2 separate regions of the Homo sapiens genome follow, and region 2 is linked to region 1. Evidence: fine-mapped expression QTL. A gene starts in region 1. The other region holds a variant in brackets. All regions are shown on one strand. Distances are from middle to middle.

Region 1 (5,000 bases):
CTCCCCACCCCTGGTAACCACTGTTCTGTTATCTCCTATGATAGCAACTTTTTAGCTTCTGCATGTGAGATTGTACGGTAGTTGCCTTTCTGTGCCTGGATTATTTCATTTAGCATAATGTCCTTCGGGTATATCCCTGTTGCTGCAAAAGACAGGATTTCTCTCTCTTTTTCTGGTTGAATAGTATTCCATTGTCAGAGAAGTGTTGTAAGACTAGGAAAGGAACACTGCAGGCTGGAGCCCTGGGGAAAGTGGTCTGAGGCAGGTGGTGGGACTAGAGCTGGGGTCTGGCAAACAGGCTGGGTTTGATTGTCAGCATAATAGAGAGCACTCATGTGCCAGCTGGGTGGGAGGAGCAGCCGAGTGAAGAAGGGGAAGCCTCTCAGGAAGCATGTGCAGGGTTTATGGTAATGAGCAGACCAGCAGGTACGTAGTGGGAGAGGGGTGTGATGGGGCAGAGGAACTTACGTTATGATAGTACAAGACAGAGGTTGAGCCTCATTTTAATAGGCATTGTGGTGGGTGTTGAATAGTGATGGAATGTATGGGTCTGGAATCAGGCTGCCTGGTCAAGGGCTCTGAAACATGAGTGTGCATCAGAATCACCTCGAGGCTTGTTAAAGGATAGGCTGTGGACCACATCTCCTCAGTTGCTGATTCAGTGGGTGTGGGTGGGGCCTGAGAATTCACATTTCTCACTGGTGATGCTGCTGTTACTGAGTTTGGGACCACATTTGGAGAACCACTGGTCTAGAATTGAGAGGTTGGCAAACCTTCTCTGTTAAGAGGTAGATAGTAAATATTTTAGGCCTTCTGGGCTACAAAGAGTATCTGTTACATATTTTTTATTGCTTTTCATGACCCATTAAGCATATATATATCATTCTCTGCCATATACAAACAGGCTGTTGGGGGAGTGAGGATGATGTAGGGAAGGTGGGGCATGGTTTAATAACCCCTGGGCCATGCCTAGATGATCAGTCCTCTGCCACATAGCTGGCTGACCTTTGCCAAGTTAATCACCTTTTACCTTTATTTTCTCATGTTTCTAATAAAACAGAGACGATAATATTCATACTTCTTACCATATAGAACTTCTGAGGATTCAGTGAGCAAAGCCACAAAAGATGGTATGTCACAATATCTGGGATATAGCTAGAATTTATAATTTATTTTTACTCTGTTGATAGGCAATGGGAAAACAGTAAGAGGCAGACCAACAGTGATCCAGGGCTCTGAAAGCTAATTGCTTCAAGATCCTGCTACCATTTTCTTTTGGGCCGCTTGCAAAGAAGAATCCTTTGACTGAAGCATGTATGTACACTCTGAAGTACAGCCTGGGTTAGTCTCTTATAAGGGATCGGATCATTGCTCAGCCTCTCCCTTGAGTGGCACTTAGAAAATGGCGCTATTCGTAAGCTGACTGGTATTGGGCCCAGGACTCTGGCTGAAGGGGTGGGCATGCTGGTAACCATTTGCAACCTATGCTCAGGTCCTACTTGTTGGGAAGCCCTGATTGAGAAGAGTGGCCTGGTCTGTGCTGGCATTAGATAGGATCTGGCTGCATTAATATTGAAACTACTCTGCCTTTTAATGTCTCATTTTGCCTCATGGTGGGAGTGAAAGTGAGAACCACAGAAAATCTGCCTGCCAGGTGTTCCACATTTCTTGTGCTACAGCATGCAAGTGAGCAGTGAGGTGTACCTTTTCCTCATGTAGCTGGGAAAGCAATACCCCTGCTTGTACCTCTGGCATATCTTCTCTGTGCTGGTGCACCTAGAGAGGTTGCCTGGTGGCCCTGAGAGAGCCATCTCATCACTAAACACTGATGGTGAAAGCTGGCCATGCTCAAATAAGATGTAGCAATCTACCTCTTCTTTGTCTAGTTACCCCCAAGGGGGCATCCACTTTCTTGCTCACCTCACCAGTTGCATGTTCTAGTCCTTGCCAGAAGCACATAATAATGACTTTGTAAGCTTAAGTTACAGGCACACAAAAGGGCCTGATGGTGATATGACTCCACCCTCCCCGTTTTTGCTGACATTCCGCCAAATATCCTTCTGTCTCCTCCCCACCTTGCAAAACAAACTTCCTGTTTTGAATTTGGTCCAGGCTGGAACAGCCCCACTACACCTGTTAACACACGCAGACGCACACTTCCCCCTTCATAATTGCTTAGCTTCTTGTTGCCTAGCCAGATTTCCCCTCAGCTTACAGTTCCTGAATCATAAGATATTGAACCAGCAAATTTAAGAGTTGACATTTTACTTAGAGGTATTCAAGTGAAAACATGGCTTCTGGTTTATTTTGCTGTATTGTGCCATGACCACTTGGCTAATTCTTCTCCTCCTTCACAGCAGAATGGAAGTGAGGAAAGGCAACCAGCTGACACAGGAGCCAGAGTGAGACCAGCAGACTCTCACACTCAACCTACACCATGAATTTGTGTCTATCTTCTACGCGTTAAGAGCCAAGGACAGGTGAAGTTGCCAGAGAGCAATGGCTCTCTTCACTCCGTGGAAGTTGTCCTCTCAGAAGCTGGGCTTTTTCCTGGTGACTTTTGGCTTCATTTGGGGTATGATGCTTCTGCACTTTACCATCCAGCAGCGAACTCAGCCTGAAAGCAGCTCCATGCTGCGCGAGCAGATCCTGGACCTCAGCAAAAGGTACATCAAGGCACTGGCAGAAGAAAACAGGAATGTGGTGGATGGGCCATACGCTGGAGTCATGACAGCTTATGGTAAGCACTGTTTCTGGGACCTCTCCATTAAAGTGTGCCTTGGCCTTGAAATGGCCCTAGAAGCTCCCAGATATGGTCTTGTCATGGACTGAATGTCCTTTGCCACTGCCTTCATAAGCAGTGAATTGCACACAGAGAGGCATCTTTAGGAAATTAAAGCAATGCCATTTTGGGGGTTCTGAGCTGGTGTATGCAGACACACTTTCCCCTGGAGTCAGTGGGTTAGTATAGTTAGGGCTCTATTGGTTGTGTTTGCAGCTAGCTCCTTCTCCCTGAACACATTTCAGGAACCATGTGATCTCATGTGGGAGTGAGTTCAGGGAATGCTGAAAAATATTCTCATCTTTCCCTAAACAAAACTTAATTAAGGCTGGTGGGGGTGAGGTGAAGAGGATGGGGAGGAATGTTCTATGGAAGCCAGTAAACTTAGAGCCAATTGTGTTCCTCCCTCCAGCCAATAAATATGACACTGGCACTTGCATGCTGGTGAGTTTTAACCTTTGGCTTCTTGAGGTTATGTTGCTCTTCTTCTTGCCCTTGTCTCTAACTGCCCTCACTTTGAAAGGAATCTTTGTGTACTTGTTGCTTTTTCTTTAAAGAATTTTTTTCAGAATTCTTTTTGAAATCAGAAAGAGTAAAAAAATACACATATGGGATGTAACTTATTTTTCTTTTATGTTTAATATAGAAAAAGTTGGAAGCTGTAGACAAGCAAAAAAAGAAAAAAATTACACATAAGTCTACTACTCCAGGCAATAACCACAATTAACATTTCAGTGTGTATTTTTCTGATACTTTGCATACACACACAAATATATATATACATATATATACATATATACATATATATACACATATATACACATATATATATACACACACATATATATATACATACACATACACACACAAATACTTGGAAAAAAATTGCAAATGGAATTTAGATCATGCTGTGTTTTGCAGAGCAGACTTGGTCTGTAGAAGATGACCTGTTGTTGAGTGACAAGAGTCTGATCATTGAATTGAGGTTTCAGTGGTCTCACTGAAGTGGTCTCCCTGATAGTATAGATGAGATGCAAGAATGGGGTTAGGTGAGGTGGAGAAAGTGGAGTTGTGTTTTGTGACCCACTCAAGGAAGGTGCCCTGAAGTATGCCGATTTCAAATCGTGATTCCCAAAAATGTGCAGCAACAGTTCAGTTCAGTGCAGGTTGAGTTCAGACACAGGAAATCATACTCAGTTATACATGTGCTTCTTTCTTTCCAAAAGGGGAAAAAAACTTGTTTTTAAAAAAGTATGTAAAATTTTATACACACGTATGTGTATGTGTGTGTGTGTATGTGTATATATTAGAAGATGCTTACTTCTGAGGAACATTTTAGAAATTCTTTTCTAGTTCTTACTATGTAAATAATCACACTCTGCATTTAATCTGTTAAAAGTGTCTGTAGGCATTGGCTTTTAATATATCTAAAAAAATGGTACCTTTTTTGAACTGATGGATTTAAAAAATGAGATTCCACTGTGGGAGCTTACACTGAAAAGTAACTAGGTAGTTTTTCCTAGAGTTGCATTTTAAAATTGCTCATTGACTCACATTTGTGTAACATTTCCAGAGTAGTTTAGATAAACCAACAGAAAATAAAGCTGATTGTCACCATTAGTGTTACCAATGTATATGACACAGCAGGTAACACAGGTGCAGTTTTAAAGTTTCTGGTTGTATGCATTTCATGTTACAGCTTTGAAGGGAAAGAGTTACAGCTCAGTGGTAATTTTCTCTTGTTTCTCTCAGTCTGTCAAACCTTTTCCATGGGCAAGAAGAAGCCCCACAAATAGCAAATTTATAGGCTTTAAATTTCTGCAGTTGTTTTGGCTGTTTGTATTTCTTGTGTATTGATGAAAATCTCATAGGGAAGGCTTCCCCACATTTTAAAGGACAATAATTTGGTCTTAGCTTTTCAGCCTCACAGAAATATTATTTTTTAAGTTACAAAAAAATCCCAGAATAGGCTGTTAGAATTTCAGCCACCTTATATGCCTGTAATCATAAGACTTTGCATCTCAAAGAAACTATAGAAATTATTTATTCCAACTTACTTTCGTAGATGAACCTTAGCAAAATAATTTGTCTTTTTCTCAAAAACAACAAAGAAACAATCAAACAGGTCACATCAGCAACTCTAACTGACACTGCTAGTTTTCTCTTTCATCGAATCAACTTTAACGTATCAAAGTGGTTTTGGGAGCTGAGTTTCTGG
Region 2 (5,000 bases), 22 kb before region 1:
CAGATGAGCCAATTAATAAATGAGCAAAGGATCTGAACAGATATTTCCCCCAAAAGAAAAACAAATAATCAGTAAGTACATGAAAAGATAAGATGCTCACTCTCTTTAGTCAGCAGGAAAATGGAAATCAAAACCACAATGAAATAGCACTTTACATCTGTTAGGATGGCTGTCATCAAAAAGACAGATGGGAAAGATGGGGGAAGTGAAGGATAGGGAGAGATTTACTAAAACAGCAGCCCCCAAACTTTTTGGCACCAGGGACTGGTTTCATGGCGGATAATTTTTCCACGGATGAAGGGGTTGTTTTGGGATGAAACTGTTCCACCTCAGATCATCAGGCATTAGATTCTCATAAGGAGTGTGCCACCTGGATCCCTCACATGCACAGTTCACAACAGGGTTTGTGCTCCTATGAGAATCTAATGCAACCGCTGATATGACAGGAGGTGGAGCTCAGGTGGTAATGCTCACTTGCTGGCTGCTTGCCTCCTGCTGTGTGGCCCAGTTCCTAACAGGCCAAGGACTGGTACTGGTCCACTGCCTGGGGGTTGGGGACCCCTGTGTTAAAGGATACCAAATTACAGCTAGATAGGTGAAATAAGTTCTAGTGTTTCATACCACTGTAGGATGACTATAGTTAGCCATGATATATAGTTTCAAATAGGATATTGAACCTTGCCAACACAAATTGTAAATGTTTGAGATGATGGCTATGCAATTACCCTAATCTGCTCTTTATACATTCTATGTATTAAAACATCACTATGTACCCCTTGACTATGTACAATTATTTGTCAATTTAAAAAATTGTTAAAGAGACAAATAAGTGTTGGCAAGAATATGGTGAAATTGGAACCTTCATACACTGGTGGTAGGAATGTAAAATGGTGTAGCTACTGTGGAAAACATTTTAGCAGTTCCTCAAAATGTTAAATACAGAGTTATCATATGACCCAGTAATTCTACTCGTAGGTATATACTCAAGGGGAATGAAAACACACACACACACACACACACCCATCAAGTCATACACAAACGCTCATAGCAGTTTTATTCATAATAGTATCAATTGATGAATAGATCAACAAAATGTGATGCATCTATTCAATGGAATATTGTTTGGCTGTAAACAAAATGAAGCACTGATATGTGCTACAACATTGGACCTTGTGAAAGAAAGCTGTCAAAGAACACTGCATATTATGATTCTATTTATATCAAGTGTCCAGAATAGGCATATCTATAGAGACACCAAAGTAGAATGAGTGCTTGCTTAGAGCTGGAGTGGGGAGGAGGAGGGGTTAGGAGGTGGTAGCTAAAGGGTGTGGGTTTCTTTTGGGTATGATAAAATGTTATATGAAATTCTCTACAGCCACACTACCTTGAATGTGTCCAATCTGTTCTGATATTGGAAGCTAAGCAGAGTTGAGCCTGGTTGGCACTTATATGGGAGAAAAGTTATAAAGCTGATTGTTGTAATGCTTGTACAACTCTGAGCCCAGTAAAAACCATTATATTGTATATTTTAAGTTGGTTAATTGTATGGTATGTGAATTATATTTCAGTAAACTGTTACAAAAAGGGTTTATAACCTAGACAAATAATTATCAAATAAACTGCATTCCTCTGTGGTGGGTGGTAAATGCTTCCTGTGTAGCAATGTACAAATTCCTATGTCAAGATCTTCATAGGCTGTCTTGATGTCTTCTCATGTGGAATTCTTCCTTTCACTTTGGAACACCATTTCTTAAAGAGATTATGGCAAAGTGAAATAATTAGTTGCTTGATTTATTGATGGATGATTTCCCTCATTCACCCTCTGGAGTTCTTTTAATAGAAATGTTAGAAACCCAGACCCTCTAGAACCTGTGGGGAGCAGCTTGGTTGAGTAGCTCTCTACCCACTGGAGGTATTTGGGGAAAGATCACTGGGTTTGTGGCTGGCTGTGAAAATGATCAGACCAGGGCGGGGCCAAGTGGCTGACATGGCTGAGTAGTGGCTGGTCCTTCTTGCCTGCTGTGCCGAGTTGTCTGTCCCCTGGTACTTTACACCCAGTGAGTTGAGGAAGAAGGAATTACCTCTCTAGACAAAGATCGTTCTGTCTGCAATATATGATATAGTACTATTGCTCTGTGGAAGCTTCAGGCAGCCATCCTCCCTCACAAACCAGCTCCTCCATTTTCCTGTCTTGGTGAATGACATGTCACCTTTTCCTCAGCTGCCCAAGCTGGAAGCCTAGTGGTCATTCTATACTCCTCCTCCTCCTCCTCGTCTTCCCTCATTCCTTCCAGTTAGTCATTGCCCACTGTCCTGCTGATTTGACCTCTTAAGTATTTCTAGCATTTGGTTTCTTATTATGACTGGACTGCCACTACCCTGTTCAGGCCTTTATTGGACTCATTTCTCACCCGGATTTTCATGAGCCACCCTTCAAACCCATCCTCTACACAGCAGCCAATATCAAATATGGTGGCCTCAGCACTGTTAAATGTCTTCAGTGATTTACCTGCCATTTGGTGGTGGTTCTTACTCAACAGGGGAGGAGTTTCAGATCATCTAGGAACCAGAACCCTTTTCAAAGTATTTAGGTGTATATCCTATTCTGGACCCATTAGCTGAAGAGGGGCCTTGGGAAAGGGCTTCTACATCTTGAAAAATCTCCCCAAACAGGATGATACCCAATAAGTAATGCTTAGAAAACAATTTATTTTGAAATAATTTCACAGGAAGTTGTAAAAACAGTACAAAGAGACCCACGGACCCATCCTTCCCCAGATTTCATGCTCTGTTACAATACCAAACCAGGAAGTTGATACTAACAGGTTACTGTT[A/T]ATAGACCACAGACCTATGTAATGTTTTTTTAATGCCCATTTTTCTTGTTAGGTTGGAGTGTGGCACTTCCTGCTAACCTGAGATGTTAGATTATTTCTTAACTGGTGCACATTTTCATTTAAGAATGGCATGGGTCTTCTTGATTCTGTGGGTGGTGGTTGTTATGGTGTGTTATGGTGTGTCTTCTTGTATGTACATGTGTGTGAGATATTGGTGGCAATTACCAGTTTTTCCTTGCAGAGTGAATTATATCCCCAAAGAGTTTGCCAAGAATACATTTGAGTAATGTAATTCTGTCTAGTGACCTAAGGTCATAACTTTCTTAAGTTAAAAAGTTAAAACTGCCACAACAGGTTTTATGCTAGAAGAATAGTATAGACATTGATTCTTCTTGAATCCAAGATTCAGTTAGCTTAAAATGATGTCATCGTGAGTTGTTTTCCAGGTATGTGTAAATCTGACTTTGTTTTTTGTAGATTGTAAAATATAAGGGTACAGGGCTGGTTCTGTGTTTTATTTTGTTTTCTGTACTTGTTTTATTCATAAGTCTAAAATATAGTGTCTACCAGGGAATGGCTCTATGCAATGAATCACAGTGTAGTTTTGCTTTGAGAGATGGGGTATTACTATGGGTCATAATGAATTCAGTGGAATGGATTTCAGACTTTTAGGTGCTGACCCAGAAAATTCTTTGAAGTAGCAATCTTTACCAATGCTAGGAATTGGGCTAGTCTGCTTTGCTTCCTCATCAAAACTGATGGACAAGATAGAAAATGCCTTTTTATCAGTTACAGTAACATTTTGCTGACACTTGGTGCATTTTTTTTATGTGTTTCACACAGATATGCTTACATCCTTTGAGAAAAGGAACTGAAGGGAAGAAAGAAAACCACAACTGCTTTAGAATAAAACTAGGTCAGCAAAGGCAGATCTTAATGTATTTAGATCAGGCAGAAGGCTAGGTCCTTCCACCTTACTCACAGAGGCCTCTGGGGCTCATTGTAGGAGTCATGAGACTTCTCCAGTAACTCTCATCAAGGATCGGTCACTAGACTAGGCCCTTTGCAAATTTAAACCCTGCAGGTAGACATTTTACAGATAAGGAAACTGGATCTTCATTTCTGTAACTTCAAGAGGGCACAGGGCTGGCTTATGTCAGTGCAGAGATTTTAATCTGAATCTAATTCCCAAGCCTCTCTGCCACACCAGATTGCCTCTCTATTCATGCACAACACTCTAGGTTTGACTCTGGCTCTCTTGAATAATTCCGAAGCAGACTTCTAAGAGAGGATTGCAAAGGCCAACTTCTTTCACAGCTGAGAAGCTGCCTTCTGAGGTGTATCTCTGAGTGGAGAAATCAGAACGCTAGATGCTATGTCCTTTCATGATGGGTAATAATCTCATTAGAGCAGGGAGACTTTGTGGTCTAAAGAGAGAAGGAAACAGTCAGTTGAAAGTTGCTCATGTGTTTCATTTTTCTGTGTTTCTCATACTTTGTTATTGATGTGATGAAGTAGTTGGGGGCTGAGAAGGAAGCCGGGGATTGGGGGCAGGGGTTGGTGGGAGTCAAGACTTACAGGTTCTTCCAAGAGACTCCTAGAGCAGTGATGCCTATAGTTTGCAAGGGCACCACCAGCAGCCATCTTTATTAACCAAGGGGGCTACAAGGACTTTTCCCAACAGATATTAAGTAGTTAGTTCACAGAAAGATTTGAATCTCTTCCTTCAAGAAGTTTGAGTCTCAACAGGGAGCAGATCATAAAGCTAAAAGTCAAATGTATGTATATATCAAGAATTATAAGACTATGGGGGTCCATACATAAGACACAGCAATGTGGCTCTGTCCTTCAACTAGGGTGACCAACGGGGACAAGTTTGTTCACCCTACCTTGACAGTCTTTGTGGCCCTGGGCAAGTCACTTAGGCTTTCTGGATTCTGAGGCCTGCTTCTCTCTCACCAGGTGCTTTTAAATTCCCTTCGTTTCTTGGGATTAGCAATAAGGTGTGACTAAGTCACAAGCTTGTGTTGGGTGGTGAATGAGGGCTGGAAGCCAGTGCTCAGAATCCTTTGAAAGTGATTAGCAGAAGTCAATATTTGAGAACAATACCAGCTGCTGTTTAGAAAGTCCAGAATAGTTGAGCAATTAGGATAAAGTAACAGACAC

The links. PIP is the estimated chance that this variant, and not a neighbour inherited with it, causes the effect. A credible set is the group of variants that fine-mapping cannot tell apart.
Region 2: its variant is the best candidate, but not a certain one, in a credible set for the expression of MGAT5 in whole blood (TOPMed, PIP 0.51).

What each region holds. Positions count from the first base shown.
Region 1 is chr2:134,251,905-134,256,904 of GRCh38, forward strand. MGAT5 (alpha-1,6-mannosylglycoprotein 6-beta-N-acetylglucosaminyltransferase) reads left to right here and starts at 2,168. Exons shown (of 16, transcript NM_002410.5): 1 at 2,168-2,740. The coding sequence starts at 2,500.
Region 2 is chr2:134,229,828-134,234,827 of GRCh38, forward strand. It overlaps a transcript of MGAT5 not described here and the pseudogene RNA5SP104. Among named protein-coding and RNA genes, the nearest start is that of MGAT5, 22 kb to the right of the region's middle. The variant A/T (reference allele first, on the strand shown) is at 2,835.